Regions from separate parts of the Homo sapiens genome. Here region 2 is linked to region 1. Evidence: fine-mapped expression QTL. Tissue or cell type: whole blood. Region 1 holds a variant in brackets; the other region holds the start of a gene. All regions are shown on one strand. Distances are from middle to middle.

The links. PIP is the estimated chance that this variant, and not a neighbour inherited with it, causes the effect.
Region 2: it holds the start of BRPF1, and the variant in region 1 is fine-mapped to the expression of BRPF1 in whole blood (INTERVAL, PIP 0.95).

What each region holds. Positions count from the first base shown.
Region 1 is chr3:9,594,882-9,602,981 of GRCh38, reverse strand. LOC105376949 (a long non-coding RNA gene) reads left to right here and starts at 2,295. Exons shown (of 3, transcript XR_940586.1): 1 at 2,295-2,462; 2 at 3,356-3,449; 3 at 4,319-4,561. It also overlaps the pseudogene DUSP5P2. The variant A/G (reference allele first, on the strand shown) is at 3,528.
Region 2 is chr3:9,726,744-9,734,826 of GRCh38, reverse strand. It overlaps BRPF1 (bromodomain and PHD finger containing 1), which reads right to left and starts at 3,092. Exons shown (of 14, transcript NM_001003694.2): 1 at 2,689-3,092; 2 at 88-696. The coding sequence starts at 686. It overlaps CPNE9 (copine family member 9), which reads right to left. Exons shown (of 21, transcript NM_153635.3): 20 at 7,641-7,714; 21 at 4,919-5,320. The coding sequence ends at 5,135. RefSeq lists enhancers at 1,977-2,536, 3,097-3,656, 7,349-7,398 and silencers at 2,614-2,743, 2,754-2,803, 3,274-3,633.

The DNA of each region.
Region 1 (8,100 bases):
GCAGGGGGTCTGGATGCACAGTAGTCAGCACATGCTGTGCTCCCATAATGGCTTGGCCCTCCTTTGGTGTTTTGAGAACCTACCCTGAGGTCAGCCTGAAGTTCATTTGCAAGCCTGGTGAGCACTCACTATCTCACTGGGGCAGTGTGACAGAGTGAGGTCTTCAGTATTGCACTGGGATGAAGTGTCCACGAGTCTTAGAAACAAAAGTCACAGTTGCTCTTGGGGTTGGGCTGGTTCCTCCATCCCAGTTTTAGCAGGATGTGGCTGTGGCCACAGGGATCCTGCTGAACTCTTAGACTGTCCGGTGGGTGGGCACCAGTGCCAGCACCGGGGAAGGGAATGTGCAGTAGGCATCCTGCAGGCCTGGGCTCAGTATCTGCAAATGACCTTCAGTGAAGAGCCTGCTGCCTCGCTTGGCAAGAGGGAGGCTGGGGGTGGGCGTGGAGGGTGGGATCTCAGATTCCTTCTGTAGGAGCTGGTCCATGAAGCCAAAATTGGACCAGATCATGCTCCTCCTCTGCTTGATGTAATTGAAGGTCTCCTTCAGGCAGAGCTGTCTGGTCTTCATGGGGGAAGACTTGCAGCTGGTGGGTGAATGGGAGATTCCAGCCTCACAGTGGACCAGGACCTTGCCTCCTTTTCCCCTGACACAGCCAATGAAGTCCATTGCATATATATATATATATATATATATATTTTTTTTTTTTTTTTTTTTTTTTTTTTTTTTTTTTTTTTGAGACGGAGTTTTACTCTTGTTCCCCAGGCTGGAGTGCAGTGCCGTGATTGCAGTCTCTGCCTCCCGGGTTCAAGTGATTCTTGTGCCTCAGCCTCCCCAGTAGCTGGGATTACAGGCACTCACCACCACAGCTGGCTAATTTTTGTACTTTTGTAGAGATGAGGTTTCACTACTTGGCCAGGCTGGTCTCGAACTCTTGACCTCAAGTGATCAGCCCGGCTCGGACTCCCAAACTGCTGGGATTATAGGCATGAGCCATGGTGCCCGGCCTGTCTATTCTTGAAAGTGGGAGTTAGTGTCAGCCATATGGCTGTCTTCCATGGGGATCCATTTGTAGTGAAGATGGGTCCTTTGGGTCTTGGAGGTTGGCCTGGAGACCTGTGATATGCAGGTTGGGGAGGAACTCTCCCTTGGATGCATGGTTGACCCTGCCAAAGTAGAGGGAGGGAAAATTTCAACTGGGCCACCCTGGTCATAAGCTGGCCCATAGCTGATGTACAGCACTGGTTTTCCAGACTGGCTGATGAGGGTCACTTCTTTCCTTCTTTTTTGAGACAATGTCTCACTCTGTTGCCCAGGCTGGAGTGCAGTGGCCCGATCATGGCTTCCTGCAGCCTTGAACCCCTGGGCTCAAGTGATGTCCCCGTTTCAACCTCCCGAGTAGCTGGGCCCACCAGCGCACTCTACCACACCTGGCTAAATTTTCTATTTTTTGTAGAGACAGGATCTCTCTATGTTGCCCGGGTTGGTTTCAAACTCCTGGGCTCAAGCTATCCTCCCTCCTCAGCCTCCCAAAGTGCTGGGATCACAGGCGTGAGCCAACGCGCTGGGCCGGCTCTCCTACTTCCTTTTTTTTTGAGACTGAGTCTGGCTCTCTCATCCAGGCTGGAGCGCAATGGTGCAATCTCGGCTCACTGCAACCCGCGCCTCCAGGGTTGAAGCGATTCTTCTGCCTCAGCCTCCTGAGTAGCTGGGATTACAGGCACCCTCCACCACGCCCGGCTAATTTTTGTAGTTTTAGTAGAGAGGGGGTTTCACCACGTTGGCCAGGCTGGTCTCGACCTCTGACCTCAGGTGATCCGCCCGCCTCGGCCTCTCAAAGTGCTGAGATTACAGGTCTGAGCCAATGTGCCAGGCCGGCTCTCCCACTGTCGATCTTGTGGAATAGTTTTACTTCCACGCAGCACTCGGGATATTCTGAGTAGAAGGTCCCCCTTTGAGGAAGGAGACCCGCGGGCCACGGGCAGGCTGGCAGGCAGGCGAGCAGGAGTCGAGTATGGGGCTCGCAGCTTGGGCGGGTGGCGACTGCCCTAGCCTAGATCCATCGCGGCCGCCGCCGCTGCCGCCCTTCTGCCGCAGCCCGGCGCTTTGCCCCGGGCCCGCCGTGGCGCCACCGAGTCGAAGGTGACGTTGAGCGCGCCGCGCACTCTCGGGCGGCGAAGGGCAGGCAGGTCGGGCGGGCAGTGGAGCACGCCGCCGCCTCCTTGCCAGGCATCTAGCCAGCTGGCGCCCGTCGGGCACGTGACCTTCATTCCACCGCCCAGCGCCCCAGCGCCCCCGCCCCCCGGCCCCAACAGAAGCCCTGATTCACATATTTAGAGAAGAAATAATCTCAATCCTACACCAACTCTCCCAGAACATGAAGGAGGAGGGATACTTCCCAACTCATTTTAATTTATATTTGACTTACCCTGATGCTAAAGCCAGTCTAAGACATTACAAGGTGGGTGGAGAGAGAACCTATAGAACAATATATCCTTTATTAACCAATATCCTTCATATCACAAAGTGAATTTAGCAATATATAAGAACCGTAGGCCCTGCAGTGGCTCACACCTGTAGTCCCAACACTTTGGGAGGCCCCAGGTGGGAGGATTGCTTGAGCCTGGGATTTTGAGACCAATAATAAAGAGGATAATAATTCTTAACTTGTTCCTGCTGCTACAACAAAATATCATTGAAACTGAAACCACCTTTGCAAAATTATGACTGAGACAGTGAAAGAGATCTAACTTAACTGACTCCATCTTGCTGCTAACCTCCAAGCTGTCCGTGTTCATTCCTGGACGTAGGCTGAACTAACTTTGGGAGAAACTTTTTTTTTTTTTTTTTTTTGAGACGGATCGTTGCTCGCTCTGTCGCCCAGGCTGGAGTGCAGTGGCGCGATCTCGGCTCACTGCAAGCTCCGCCTCCCGGGTTTACGCCATTCTCCTGCCTCAGCCTCCCGAGGCAGGAGACTAGAGTAGCTGGGACTACAGGCGCCCGCCACCAAGCCCGGCTAATTTTTTGTGTTTCTAGTAGAGACGGGATTTCACCATGGTCTGGATCTCCTGACCTCGTGATCCGCCCGCCTCGGCCTCCCAAAGTGCTGAGATTACAGGCGTGAGCCACCGCGCCTGCCCAGGAGAAACTTAAGTTTATAGTTTGTAGTTTAAACAAAGATGGTAACAGCCTTTTCCCAAAGCAGACCTCCTTCTCGCCTGGAGACTATATTGCCTTTGTAGGACTAACAGTAGCCACAAGATTGGAAATTATGGTTTAAGGGTCATGCAGCTGGAGGTTATAAGATTCTGACCCTCCCTGAACTGCTCCTAAGATCAGTGCTTGATTTTGCAGAGCCTGCACATGATGGATCAGCTGGCCCCACCCAGATCAATGAACTGGCTCATCTGATCTCGTGCCCCTCCTCCCCAACCCAGTAACTGACTGCGTAAGAAGACGGCTTCTACTCCCTATGATTTCATCTCTGACCAATCAGCACTCCTGATTGGCTTCCCCTCTTCCACCA[A/G]GTTATCCTTAAAAATTCTGCTCCCTGAATGCTCAAATGCTCAGAGAGGCTGATTTGAGTAATAATAAAACTCTGGTCTCCCACACAGCCGGCTCTGAGTGAATTAGTCTTTCTCTATTGCAATTGCCCTGTCTTGACGAATCTGCTCTGTCTAGGCAGCGGGCAAGGTCAGGTCAACCCCTTGGGCGGTTACAAAACCGCCTTTGCAAAAATTATAACTGAGGAAATTATGGCAGTGAAAGAGATCAGATCTAACTGACTCCATCTTGCTTCTGACCTTCAAGCTGTCCTTGTACATTCTTGGGTGGATGCCAAACTAACTTTGGGAAGGAATTCAGTTCATGATTTGACTCTGAAACAAAATTGGTAATAGCCCTTTCCCAAAAAGACACAGAGAAATTTAATATAGCAGGCTCCAACTTCCTTGTAAACTCATAAGCTAACTGCCCTTGCCAATTCCTGGGCAGGAACTCCTGGGAGGAATTTAGTTAATAATTTAACCTTAAAGCAAGGATGATAGCAGTCCCTTCCCAAATTACCCTCTCCTTGTTTGGGTACTGACATTGCCTTTGTAAAACTTATGAAAGGCCATAAGATTAGAATTATAGGTGGGTCCTGAATTCTGCGACGACCTATGCAGAGTTTAATAATAACTAGCCATTGTTTTCTAATTTGCTTACTGCTCAGAATTCATACAGCTAGTGGTCACGAGATTTATAATTTCTCTAGTTGCCCCTATAGGTAACATCACTATTGTAAAACCTAACATTGGTATTTGTGATATTTTTCAGGCATTGCATTCTGGTGGAACAACTGATGCCACCCAGACTTGTGACCCCCACCCAGGAACTGACAGAGGCACAGAGACAGTTTTGATAACCCTGTGGTTTCATCCCTGACCAAACCAATCAGTATTTCCCATTCCCTAGCTCCCTGCCTGCCAAACTATCCTTAAAACCCTAGCCTCCGCATTCTCTGGGAGGCAGATTTGAGAATTGTCTCATCTTCTCGCTTGGCTGGCCTTGCAATTAAACATGTTCTTTGCTGCAAAACCTGCTGTTCTCAGTGCATTGGCTTTTCTGGGCAGTGGGCAAGAAGAACCTCTTGGGCTGTTACAAAACCATATGATGATCTCAAAAAATGCACCCACAAGAAAGGCATTTGAAAAGAAAGTCTAGGTCAGGCGCAGTGGCTCACACCTGTAATCCCAGCACTTCGGGAGGCTGAGGTGGGTGGATCACGAGGTCAAGAGATCGAGACCATACTGGCCAACTTGGTGAAACCCCGTCTCTACTAAAAATACAAAAAAAAAATAGCCAGGTATGGTGGCGAGCACCTGTAATCCCAGCTACTCAGGAGGCTGAGGCAGGAGAATCACTTGAACCCGGGAGGTGGAGGTTGCAGTGAGCCGAGATTGCGCCACTGCACTCCAGCCTGGTGACGGAGCGAGACTCCGTCTAAAAAAGAAAAAGAAAAGAAAAGGAAGTCTAACATCATTTATGATAAAAACTGTCAGTATACTAGTAACAGAAGAGAATATCCTCAACCTGATAATTGATATCAGTAAAATACCTACATCTAATATCATATTTAATGGTAAGAGACTCAGTGCTTTTCCACTGAGAAAGAGAACAAGGTAAGGATATCTGTCCTTGTCACTCCTATTCAACATTGTAATGGAACATTACATTAAGATTATAAAAAAGCATATAGATTGAAAAGGAAGAAATAAAACTATACTAACAGATTACATAATCGTCTATATAGAAAATCTCAAAGAATCTACAAAAATGTCCTACTATAAGTAATAAGCAACTTAGCAAGGTCACAGGATATGTGGTCAATAAAAAACCAATTTTAATTCTGTACAGTGAAAATTGGGGCAAGGAGTGGTGGCTCACGCCTGCAATCCCAGCACTTTGGGAGGCCAAGACAGGCAGATCATGAGGTCAGGAGATGGAGACCATCTTGGCTAACATGGTGAAACCCTGTCTCTACTAAAAATACAAAAAAATTAGCTGGGCGTGGTGGTGGGCGCCTGTAGTCCCAGCTACTAGGGAGGCTGAGGCAGGAGAATGGTGTGAACCTGGGAAGCAGAGTTTGCAGTGAGCTGAGGTCACGCCACTGCACTCCAGCCTGGGCAACAGAGTGAGACTGTCTCAAAAAAAAAAAAAAAAAAAAAAAGAAAAGAAAAAGAAAGTTGGAACTTGAAATGTTAAAAACCGTCTGGGTATGGTGGCTCATGCCTGTAGTCCTAGCACTTTGGGAGGCCGAGGTGGGTGGATCATGAGGTTGGGAGTTCGAGACCAGCCTGGCCAACATGGTGAAACCTTGTCTCTACTAAACATACAAAAAAATTAGCTGGGTATAGTGGCGTGAGCCTGTAGTTCCAGCTACTCGGGAGGCTGAGGCAGGAGAATCACTTGAACCTGGGAGGTGGAAGTCACAGTGAGCAGAGATCGCAGTGAGCCGAGATCGTGCCACTGCACTCCAGCCTGGGCAACAGAGCAAGACTCTGTCTCAAAAAAAAAAAAAAAAAAAGACGAAGAAATGTAAAAATCATTGTGGCCAGGCGCAGTGGCTCACGCCTGTAATCCCAATCCCAGCATTTTGGGAGGCCGAGGTGGGTGGATCACGAGGTCGGGAGATCGAGACCATCCTGGCTAACACGGTGAACCCCATCTCTACTAAAAATACAAAAAATTAGCCGGACATGGTGGCGGGCGCCTGTAGTCCCAGCTATTCGGGAGGCTGAGGCAGGAGAATGGCATGAACCCGGGAGGTGGAGTGTGCCACTGCACTCCAGCCTGGGCAACAGAGCGAGACTCTGTCTCAAAAACAAAAACAAAAACAAAAAACAAACAAACAAAAAAACCATTGTAATGTGAAGTACCATTGAAATGTAAAGTACCATTGCCAGTTGCAGTGGCTCATGCCTGTAATCCTGGCACTTTGGGAGGCTGAGGTGGGTGGATTGCTTGACCCTAGGAGTTCAAGACCAGCCTGGGCAACATGGGAAAACTCAGTCTCTACAGAAAAAAATACAAAAAATATCTGGGTGTGGTGGTGCATGCCTGTAGTCCTAGCTACTTGGAGGCTTAGCTGGGAGGACCACTTGAGCCCCAGGAGGTTGAGGCTGCAGTGAGCTGTGATGGTGCTGTTGCTGGGCTTTTCCTTAGTTCAGCTAAAGATGGAGTCCTTGTCACATGGCCATGAGAATCTAGGCTTGCAGACAATTTGAAGAATGAGAAAAATGGGATTTATTGGGCCAAATGGGAAACAGAGGGAAACAGGGACTCTCAGCAGAGTGAAAGTACTGTTAGTATGTGCTTCCTGCCTCATGGATTGAATTGCAGGTTCCACCCAGGTAAAGGAGGGGCCAGGCTCCTCCCCACTGCAAACAGCAGGAACTTCTGTGTCTCCATCCCAATGTGCACTCCTCCCAGTGCACAGGCTGGTTGAAGTTTCTCTGGGGACCCCTTCCCATCTGGCTGTCTCAGTGCCATTGCACTCCAGCCTGGGTGACAGAGTGAAACTTTGTTTAAAAAAAAAAGTATCCTTTATGATAACACCAAAAGATGTGAAATAGGTATAAATCTAACAAAATGTGTGCAGCAGATTTACACAGAAAACTACAAAACCCTGATGAGAAAAATCAAAGGAGACTAAAACAAACGACAAGATATATCATGTTCATGGATAAGAAGACTCAATATTATTAAGGTGTCTTAAATTGATCTGTACATTCAGTGCAATTGGTTTTAAAGTTCTAGCAATATTTTGGTAGTCTACAAGCTGATTCTAAGAATTACGTGGAAAAGAAAAGGAACTAGAATGGTCAAAACAATTTTGAAAAAGAAGAAGAAGTCTAGGTGCGGTGGCTCATGCCTGTAATCTGAGCACTTTGGGAGCCAAGATGCATCACTTGTGGCCAGGAGTTCAAGACCAGCCTGGGTAACATAGAGACACCCCATCTCCAGAAAAACATTTTTCAAATTAGCTGGAGGCTGGGTGCGGTGGCTCACGCCTGTAATCCCAGCACTTTGGGAGGCCAAGGCGGGCAGATCACAATGTCAGGAGATCGAGACCATCCTGGCCAACACAGAGAAACTCTGTCTCTACTAAAAATACAAAAAATTAGCCAGATGTGGTGGTATGCACCTGTAGTCCCAGCTACTCAGGAGGCTGAGGCAGGAGAATCGCTTGAACCTGGGAGGTGGAGATTGCAGTGAGGAAAACAAAAGAAAATTAGCTGGGTGTGATAGTGCACACCTGTGGCCCTAGCTACTAGAGAGGCTGAGGTGAGAGAATTGCTTGAGCCCAAGAGTTAGAGACTGAAGTGAGCTAAAAACAAACAAACAACAAAAACAAACAAACAAACAAAGTTGGAGGACTCATAGTACCTGATTTCAAGTCTTACTACAAAGATAGATAATCAGGGTAAAGTAATATTGGCAAAAGGATGGACACATACATCAGTGGAACAAAACAGAGTCCAGAGAATGATCCACACACAAATACCAATTAATTTCTTTTTCTTTTGAGACAGAGTCTTGCTCTGTCACCCAGGCTG
Region 2 (8,083 bases), 130 kb before region 1:
CTCTTCTATCTGTGCCTCTCACCTCTCTCTGGCTAGTGAGCCCTGCTTGACCAGTTTTCCAGAGCTGCAAGGTAGAGGTGGCCTTACCGGTAATAGGAAGTTGGCCGGGGTGGGGCATCAGGGGTGTCCTGTTCCAGCTCCCGATAGACCACCTCTGGCAGCTTGGGAGTGGTGCTCGCAGAAACATTGTGGTGGTGGTGATGGTTGGAGTCCTTGCGCTTCTCCTTGTTCTTATGTTTGCCTGACTTGGGAGTAGCAGCTGGTGTCTCAGTGTTCTCCTTGTTGCTGCCATTCTCAGGGGCCTCCTCGGGGGCTTCCTCATCCTCTGACACCACATCCAGGTTGTCAAAGATGCTGATGCGGTGGACGCGGCCATGCAAGTCCACCTCCACCATGCGCTGGGCCTGTGCATAGCTCATCACCTCACGGCCTGGTGACTGTGAGACCTCTGAGGGGCTGGGTGACTGCTTGTTGGCTGGGCGTGACTGGCGCCCCTTTTTCTTGTGCTTGCGGAGTGGAGTTTGTTGTGGGGGTGGTGGGTTGTCGTGGTCATAGTGGTACAGGTGGTACTCAATACCACTGTAACTCTTGTAGACCTTTCGGCAGGTCTCCACCGGGCACTCGTATGGTGGCTTAGTCGCCCGCAAGTTGTGGCAGAAAGTCTTCACATCAAAGTCCACCCCCATGCTGTCACATCTAGAATACACAGATCAGTTAACATAAGGCTGGGGATGAGTTCCTGGCCATTTGCACCAGAGACCCCAGTCTTTCTAGCCCTCCCCCTCACTTGGAGTCACCAGATTCTGGCCAGCCTACCTCTACAGTGTCTCCAAATGCCATCTCCTCCACCATAGCCCATATCTGGGCCCTCATCACCTCTTGCCTGGTTATCCTGCCCTATGTCTCAACTTCTTTAGCCCAATCTCACATCATGTAGGAGAATGATCTTTCTACCAGGTAGTAATGATCATGACACTCTCTTCATTAAAAGCCTCCTGATGCTCCCAGTTCCTTCAAGATAATATTCCAAATTCTCTATGATGCCATTCAAAGAGCTCCTTTCACTGACTGGCCCTAGTCCTCCTTTCTTTTTACAAGTTACAGCTGTTTTTGTCTACACAGGGGATCTTGCCATTCCCTGAATGTTATAACCTCTCATTCCTGCAAAATGATCCCTATTTGGAATGCCCTCCATACTTTCTGATTGGTGGGCTCCTACTCATTCTTCAAAAAACCAGCTCAAATGTCACTTCTGACACAACTTCTCTGACTCTCCCATGGGGAGCTGTTTCCACAGCATTCCATTCTCACCTCTACCACAGCACTTGACATACTGAAAGTTGTCTCCCCCCTGGACTGGGAGCTGTGTAGCAAGGGTACCAGAGCCTATCCACCTCTGTATCCCCAGTACCTAGCATGCACTGGACATTCAGTTTTTGGCGAACGAATGAATGACCTGTTGAACGAATAGCTGAATGAGGGGATCACCAGACTGAGAGCTCAGATGGGATGAAGGCCATGTAGAAAGCTGAATGGGTGGGTGGCTAATGCTTTAGCGTTGGACTCCTGCAGAAATCACTGGATCACAGAAAGAATTCATTTACTTTTGAGGTCTTTATGGGGAGCCTGGCCCTGGTACTGGGTAGGAGATGTACTGTGAAACAAAGTGAAAACTGAGGTCATTTAGTCAGTGACAGCAGCTTGTATTACATTTGAGCTGTTCACCCACTCACACATCAACTGAGTGACTACCAAGTGCCAGGCCCTAAGGGTACAAACACGAACGCGACAATCTAGGCATGCTCAGCTCCATGCTGGTCCGCAGGGGCCCTCCCTCCCCGCTCCCCAACATTCCTGGGTGAGTGTAGACAGCAGATGGCACCAGGCCTCAGGAAGCCCAGCTTGGTCAGAGACTGCCCCAATTTCTCTCGGCCTAGTTGAGTTCAACCATTCAGCTAGGGGCTTGGCACCATCCCAGCCAGGCAGGGCTATCATGAGCTCCCTGACAAAATAACCCCTCTTGGCCTCTCCACCTGTGCCTTAACCAGGCAAGTGGGCTGCTCCAGCTCCACTGTCAACGGCTCCTGATTTTCACATCAGTAACGCTACACGTCCAACTGCAACTCTTCTATTTCCTACCTGCGGCTGTGTCTTTAAACATAAACCAACCGAAGCACAAACAAGCTCTCCTCTTTCCAAGCTGGGTCCCGGGTGAATGGTTCCCAAAGTAGCACAGCGAATCAGCAATCTCCCCTTGGAACCCGGCAGCAGAGGCACAGGCGAGGGAGACGAGAACTTAGACCAGAAAGCCCGTGGGGAGGGCCCAAGGAGAATGGCGGCTGCATCTGCCCCTGAAGCTCAGGGGGCTGGAGGAAGTAAGGGGCGGGGGCCGGAGGGATAGGGCTGGGCCCCGGCAGTGCCCGCAGCCCACTCTCCGGATGCGGCGGCGTTTCCCCTTTGTGGAAGTGTAACAAGTGAAACAAGGCTCCCCGCCTGCCACTAGCCCGGGCAGCCCCGAAAGATACACTGTTGCCCCAGGATGCCTGCTGGGAAGCAATGCACTGTCAGTTCTCCCAACTGGAGTTGCCAGAGAGGTTCCCGGGCCACGCGGCTCAGTGCGCGTCCCACGAACGTAGCCTACCCCTTCCCTGCCGGCCACTCCCGCCCTGGTCCCAGGCCCGCACTCACCGGCCACCTCGAGTCCGGGCTCATCGCCGGGGGCGCCCGCCGGGGCTCCGACCCCACTTGGGGAGGTCGGCGGGGAAAGTCGGGCCGGGAAGGGGGAGCCCCAACTCCGGAGACCGTAGACCTCGCCACCCCGGCCCCCTGCCGCCCCACGCTTTGGTCCCGGCTCCCCGGGATTCCTGAGCTGACCCCTGCCGCTCCTGGTCCCGCCGGCGCCCTGGGGTCTCAACTCCGTCGGCCGCCGCCCGTTTCGCGAGCCCCCAAGATGCCCGGTCTCGGGACCGGGCGCTGCTGGAACAATGGAGGCTCCCAGAGGCAGCGCGAGGACAGCGGCGGCGGAGACCGTGGCGGCAAAGGCTGTGGCAGCGGCGGCGGCAGCAGCGGCGGCGACGGCGTCTGCGCAGGGTAAACGTGGCGCCGCGGCGCTACTGAGCTGCACTTTCGCCACGGATCCCCGCCCGCCCGCTGAGGCTCGAAAGACCGTGCTCCGGGATTCAGAAAGGACCCTGGACACCCCACAGGGCTTCTCTAGCTCTCCCATCTTAGAGTGGAGTTTCTGGAGACTGAAGTCACCGTACTCGGGATCTGGGGTCGTCGGGCGGTTTGTGGCGAATCTGCAACCACGGACGGTGAGCGCGGGGCTGGGCGTGAGGAGCCCGCCCTTCTCCCCTCCCCCTCTGCCTCCTCCCTATCCGCTCCCTGCCTCCTGCTGGCGCCGCGGCTGCGGGAGGGACCTGGCCTTGGTCTCGGAGGAAGGCGGTGAGGCGGGGCCAGAGTCACGGGGCGGGGCTGGGGGCAGGGCCGGGAGCAAGAGGGATGCGGGCTGGAGCCTAAGGGACCGGTAGTTATGGGTAGGACCGGGGCGGGGCTGGAGACTAGACCGGTCTGTGGGGCGGGGCTTGTGGGAGGGGGCGGGGCTACCGCACAGCGGGGGCCTGTTAGAATAGCGGGGTAAAAAGTGGGGCTAAACAGAAGAAGAGTACTCGCGAGAGAAAGGGCGGAGCTTTGGATGAGCCTGGAAAGTGGAGCTGGACTAGAAATAAAGAACAAAGTTGGAAAAAGCGATGCGACGCTGAAGGGAGCAGGCGGGGCTTGGTAAGGCAGGGGCGGAGCTGTGGGGAAAGGGCAGGACCGATTAGGGATAACGGGGCGTGACTGAAGGAAAGGGAAGAAACTTGGGAAAAGTAAAGGAGAGGTGCTAGAGAAAAGGTATGGGTCTGAGAGAAGGGGCTGGTTTGGGGCCGGTGGGTGTGAAAGGGCTTGTCTGGTAAAGCGGTGGGAAATCTGTGGGTTGGCAGGGATGTGCTGCGGGTTGCTGATTGGAACATGGTGCCAAAACAGCTGATTTAATGTGAGTGGGTCACCTCCTAGCAATGTGAACGTGGGCAAGTTCAGTTCTTTAAGTTCCTTATTTGTAAAACAGAGCTCGAAAACTCTGTTGTTAGTTCTTGAGGGTTTCAGAGAACTTGCATGGCAGGGGGAGACATCCTTAAACAATACTTCTCCAGTTTTGTCATCAAAGAGGAGCGTGAAAGGTCTTCCAGGGTTCTGGGACAAAGCCCAAAGCATCTGAAAGCTTCTATCTTCTTAATGCAAACTTTGCATTTGACCCAATAAAATGTATGTTTTCTAAAAACCATCCCAATAAAATCGACATGCCAGGAAGAGGTTTGCTGATTAAGATCTTGGGATCTGAAGTCAAACTGATGAATTATCTTAAATGACTCATCTTCTCAGAGCCTCAGTTTCCTTATGGGTAAAGTGGGAATAATATATAGTACCTGTTCTCAGAGTTGTTGTGAGAATTAAATGAGATGATGCTTGTAAATCACCTAGCACACGGTTTGACATGTAGTGAATGTTCAAAGAAAATATTAGCTGTTATTATCCTTATTAAAATAATTCAGAATAGATGGATCAAAGCAGAGTTATACTAAGTTATCTCCTTTAGTGGTCAGGAATTCGTTTGAGAATCTGCTGAGAACTATGGGTCGTGTGTAGGATTCGGATTTTATGGAAAAAAGAAAAAAAACAACTATGGGCCTCTCTCCTGAGGAAAAACATACAAAGTTTCACTTATTAAGGTCTTTGAAGAATGTATGAAGAAGTGATTGGATGAACGTGTTAGGATGGGGATGAATCTAACTGAAGCCATCCTGGTTCCCTCCCTCTTGATGTGGCCCCAGTCGTTGGGTCCCATAGTCTTCCTTCGCCAACATGCATGAGACAGAGGTGGAATAAAGATCAGCTTTATTATTGGCATGAAGGCAGAGAGGTGGTGATAGTGCCAGGCCCTCTGCAGGCAAGGAGGCGGAGGGCTTGTCAGCCAGCACTGATCCTCCAAGTTGGCCCTCCCAGTGAAGTCCAGGGTTCCAGGTGCCTCTGGCTTAAAGCAGAAGCAGTGGGTGAGCAGGCTTGCAGACTGTGAGGCATTGGATATGTGGAATCCTCAGGGCTGCTCTGGAGCTGGGATCGGGCTGGGGTTGGCAGGGGGTGGGGGCCGAGGCTGGATGTCTCTGGTGCGCATATAGGACAGCAGCTGCTCCGGGATCTCGGCCAGCACATCCTTGGCCAGTCGGGCCATGCTCAACACCTGGTTCCCCGACCGGTCAACATAGTCTCGGAATGGGACGAACTGGGTCAGGCACAGACAAGAAGAGATAAGCCATGACCAGGAGAGAGGGCATGGGGGTGCAGCAGGGAGGCTTCTTTTTTGATCCCCAGCATCTCTTTCCAACTATCACAGTATCTCCCTCTCCACATCTTGAACAGTTTTCTACATTTGCTTTCTCTCCACCCACTTTTTTTTCCACCTTTTATTCACCCTCAACCCACTCCAGTTTGGCTTCACACAGGCCATTGAAACTGCTTTTGCTGATGTCGTCAGTGGCCCTGTGTTGCTAAATCAGTCCAGTGAACAGTAATTTTTAGTCCTCATCTTGCTTGACTTCTCTTTAGCTTTCCATTACATTTGACCATAATTCTTCTGGACACGTCCCACTCTTGATACCACACTCTTCTGGCTTCTTGCTTACCTTTCTTGAAGCTCCCCCCTCCCACCACCATTCCTCTGGGTCTATCTGCTCTCTAAACCTGGTCCCTTCTCTCTCTCAGCTCTCTTCCTGGATGATTTCATACACTTCCATGACTTTAAAAATTGTTCCCTGGAAGGAAGTAGAGCAGGCCAGGAGGTGGGGAGGGAGACTGGAAAGGAGGGAGCAGGGGAGACAAGGGGCAGGGACCAGAGAGAAGGGATCCTGAGAACAGGAGGAGGTCAGAGAGATGGAGCTGGGGCAAGAAGGAGGAGGAGTCTGTGAGAAGGGGCTGGGAAGAGAGAGAGGCCTAGGAGAGGGACTTAGGGAGAGGAGAAGAAATGAGATGTGGGGGGAGAGGGGCTGATAAGGGAGAAAAAAAACAAAAGAAAATCTGTTTCTAATGACTGCCAAATGTATATATCCATCCATGACCTCTTTTCAAAAAATTATGTTTTATTTTTATTTATTTTATTTTTTTCTTTTGAGACAGAGTTTCACTCTTGTTGCCCAGGCTGGAGAGCAATGGTGCGATCTCGGCTCACTGCAATCTCTGCCTCCCGGGTTCAAGTGATTCTCCTGCCTCAGCCTCCCAAGTAGCTGGGATTACAGACATGCACCACCACACCCGGCTAATTTTATATTTTTAGTAGAGACGGGGTTTCTCCATGTTGGTCAGGCTGGTTTCGAACTCCTGACCTCAGGCAATCCGCCCGCCTCAGCCTCCCAAAGTGCTGGGATTACAAGCGTGAGCCACCGCGCCCGGCCTTTATTTTTTTAATGTAGCAGAGATCAGGTCTTGCTATGTTGTCCAGGCTGGTCTCAAACTCCTGGTCTCAAGAGGCCCTCCTGCCTTGGCCTACCAAAGTGTTGGGATTATAGGCATGAGCCGCCATGCTTGGGCCCATCCCTGACCTCTTTTTAAGGTCTAGAACCACATATTTAGTTGCCCATATTACCACTCCATTCAATTGTCACAGATACTTCGAACCCAGTGTGTTCACAACTGAATTCTAGCTCTTTCTGCCAAATCTCCTCCTCTAGCTTTCCCCTTCCCAGCAAATGGGATGTCACTCACCCAGTTGCTTAAGCTAGAATACTGAGTCATCCTTGAAGCCCTCCTCACTCCCTGTCATCATCTAATCATCAAGTCTTGTAAAATTTTCTTCTTAAATATCTTTTGAACCTGCCACTTTCTCTCCCTCCCCACTGCTTCTAGCCAGATCTTTATCGCCTCCCCTCTACTACTTCAAAGGCTTCCTCACTAATGAGTCTACCTGCCTTTTCTCTTGCCCTGTTACTGTCCACCCACCATGCAGCAGCTAGAGAGATCCTTTTAAAATGCCATCTCACTCCTCTATGTAAAATCCTTCAAGAGCTTTCCAATTCTAACATACCCCCAAATTTTGCCTCCCTCCTCACACTCAGTGTGATCCTGCTACCCTAGCTTCTGCTTTTTCGTGGATCGGGCCAGTTCTTCTGGGCCTCAGAGCCTTCTCACATGCTGCTCCTCTCCCTGTAATGCTTATCCCCTCCCTTAGGTCTTGGCAAGCTAAAGAACCCTTTCCTGACTACTGTACCTATGTTAGGTCCCTGTTACAGGCTCTCACAGTGGCATTTGCTATTCCTCTGGAGTACTTATCACAATCTAATGAGATATTTCTTTGTGTGATTATTTATTGTTGGTTGTCTCCACTAGAGGGCAGGGGCCTTGGGGACCTCCCGACCTACACCACGGATGTGCCAAGGCTGCAGCAACCTTCCTGTTTGTCAAAAAGGATGTATTCAATGAATGAGAAAGGATGAAAGAGTGACGGGGGAAAAAAGTAGGAGACTGAGAAGGCAGTAAGTGAAAGTGGCTCCCAACTTAGCCTCTTCTCACTGTGCCTCTCAGCTCCACAGCCTCTCCCACGTCAGGTCTACCTGAACGATGTCCCGCTCTGCGTAGCGTCCCCTAGAGGACACGCGCACATCATCACCGTCCAACTCTTCCATTGCTGCAGAAAAGACACACCCCTCAGCTGATTGGCCTCTCCAGCCCCACCCCATGCTGCCCCCTCCCTTTGAGCTCCCCTTTGGAGTCATCAGGAGAATGCCTAATGCTTGTGATCAAGTCCTACAAATATCAGTCTTCGTTATGGAGTTATTATTACTATTATTATGCCTCCCAGGCAGTCCATCCTCCCAGGAACCCCAGAGGGAAGTATTAGTATCATCAGCCTTGGTTCTGATAAGGAAACAGGTTCAGAGAAGGTCTGTGACTTGACCAAGGCTTCACACGGGGGTGTCTACCTTGTGTCATCTGTGAGGCAGGCCCAAGTACCCGACCCCCTCCCACTTTTCTCCTTAGTTCTTAGTCCCACTCA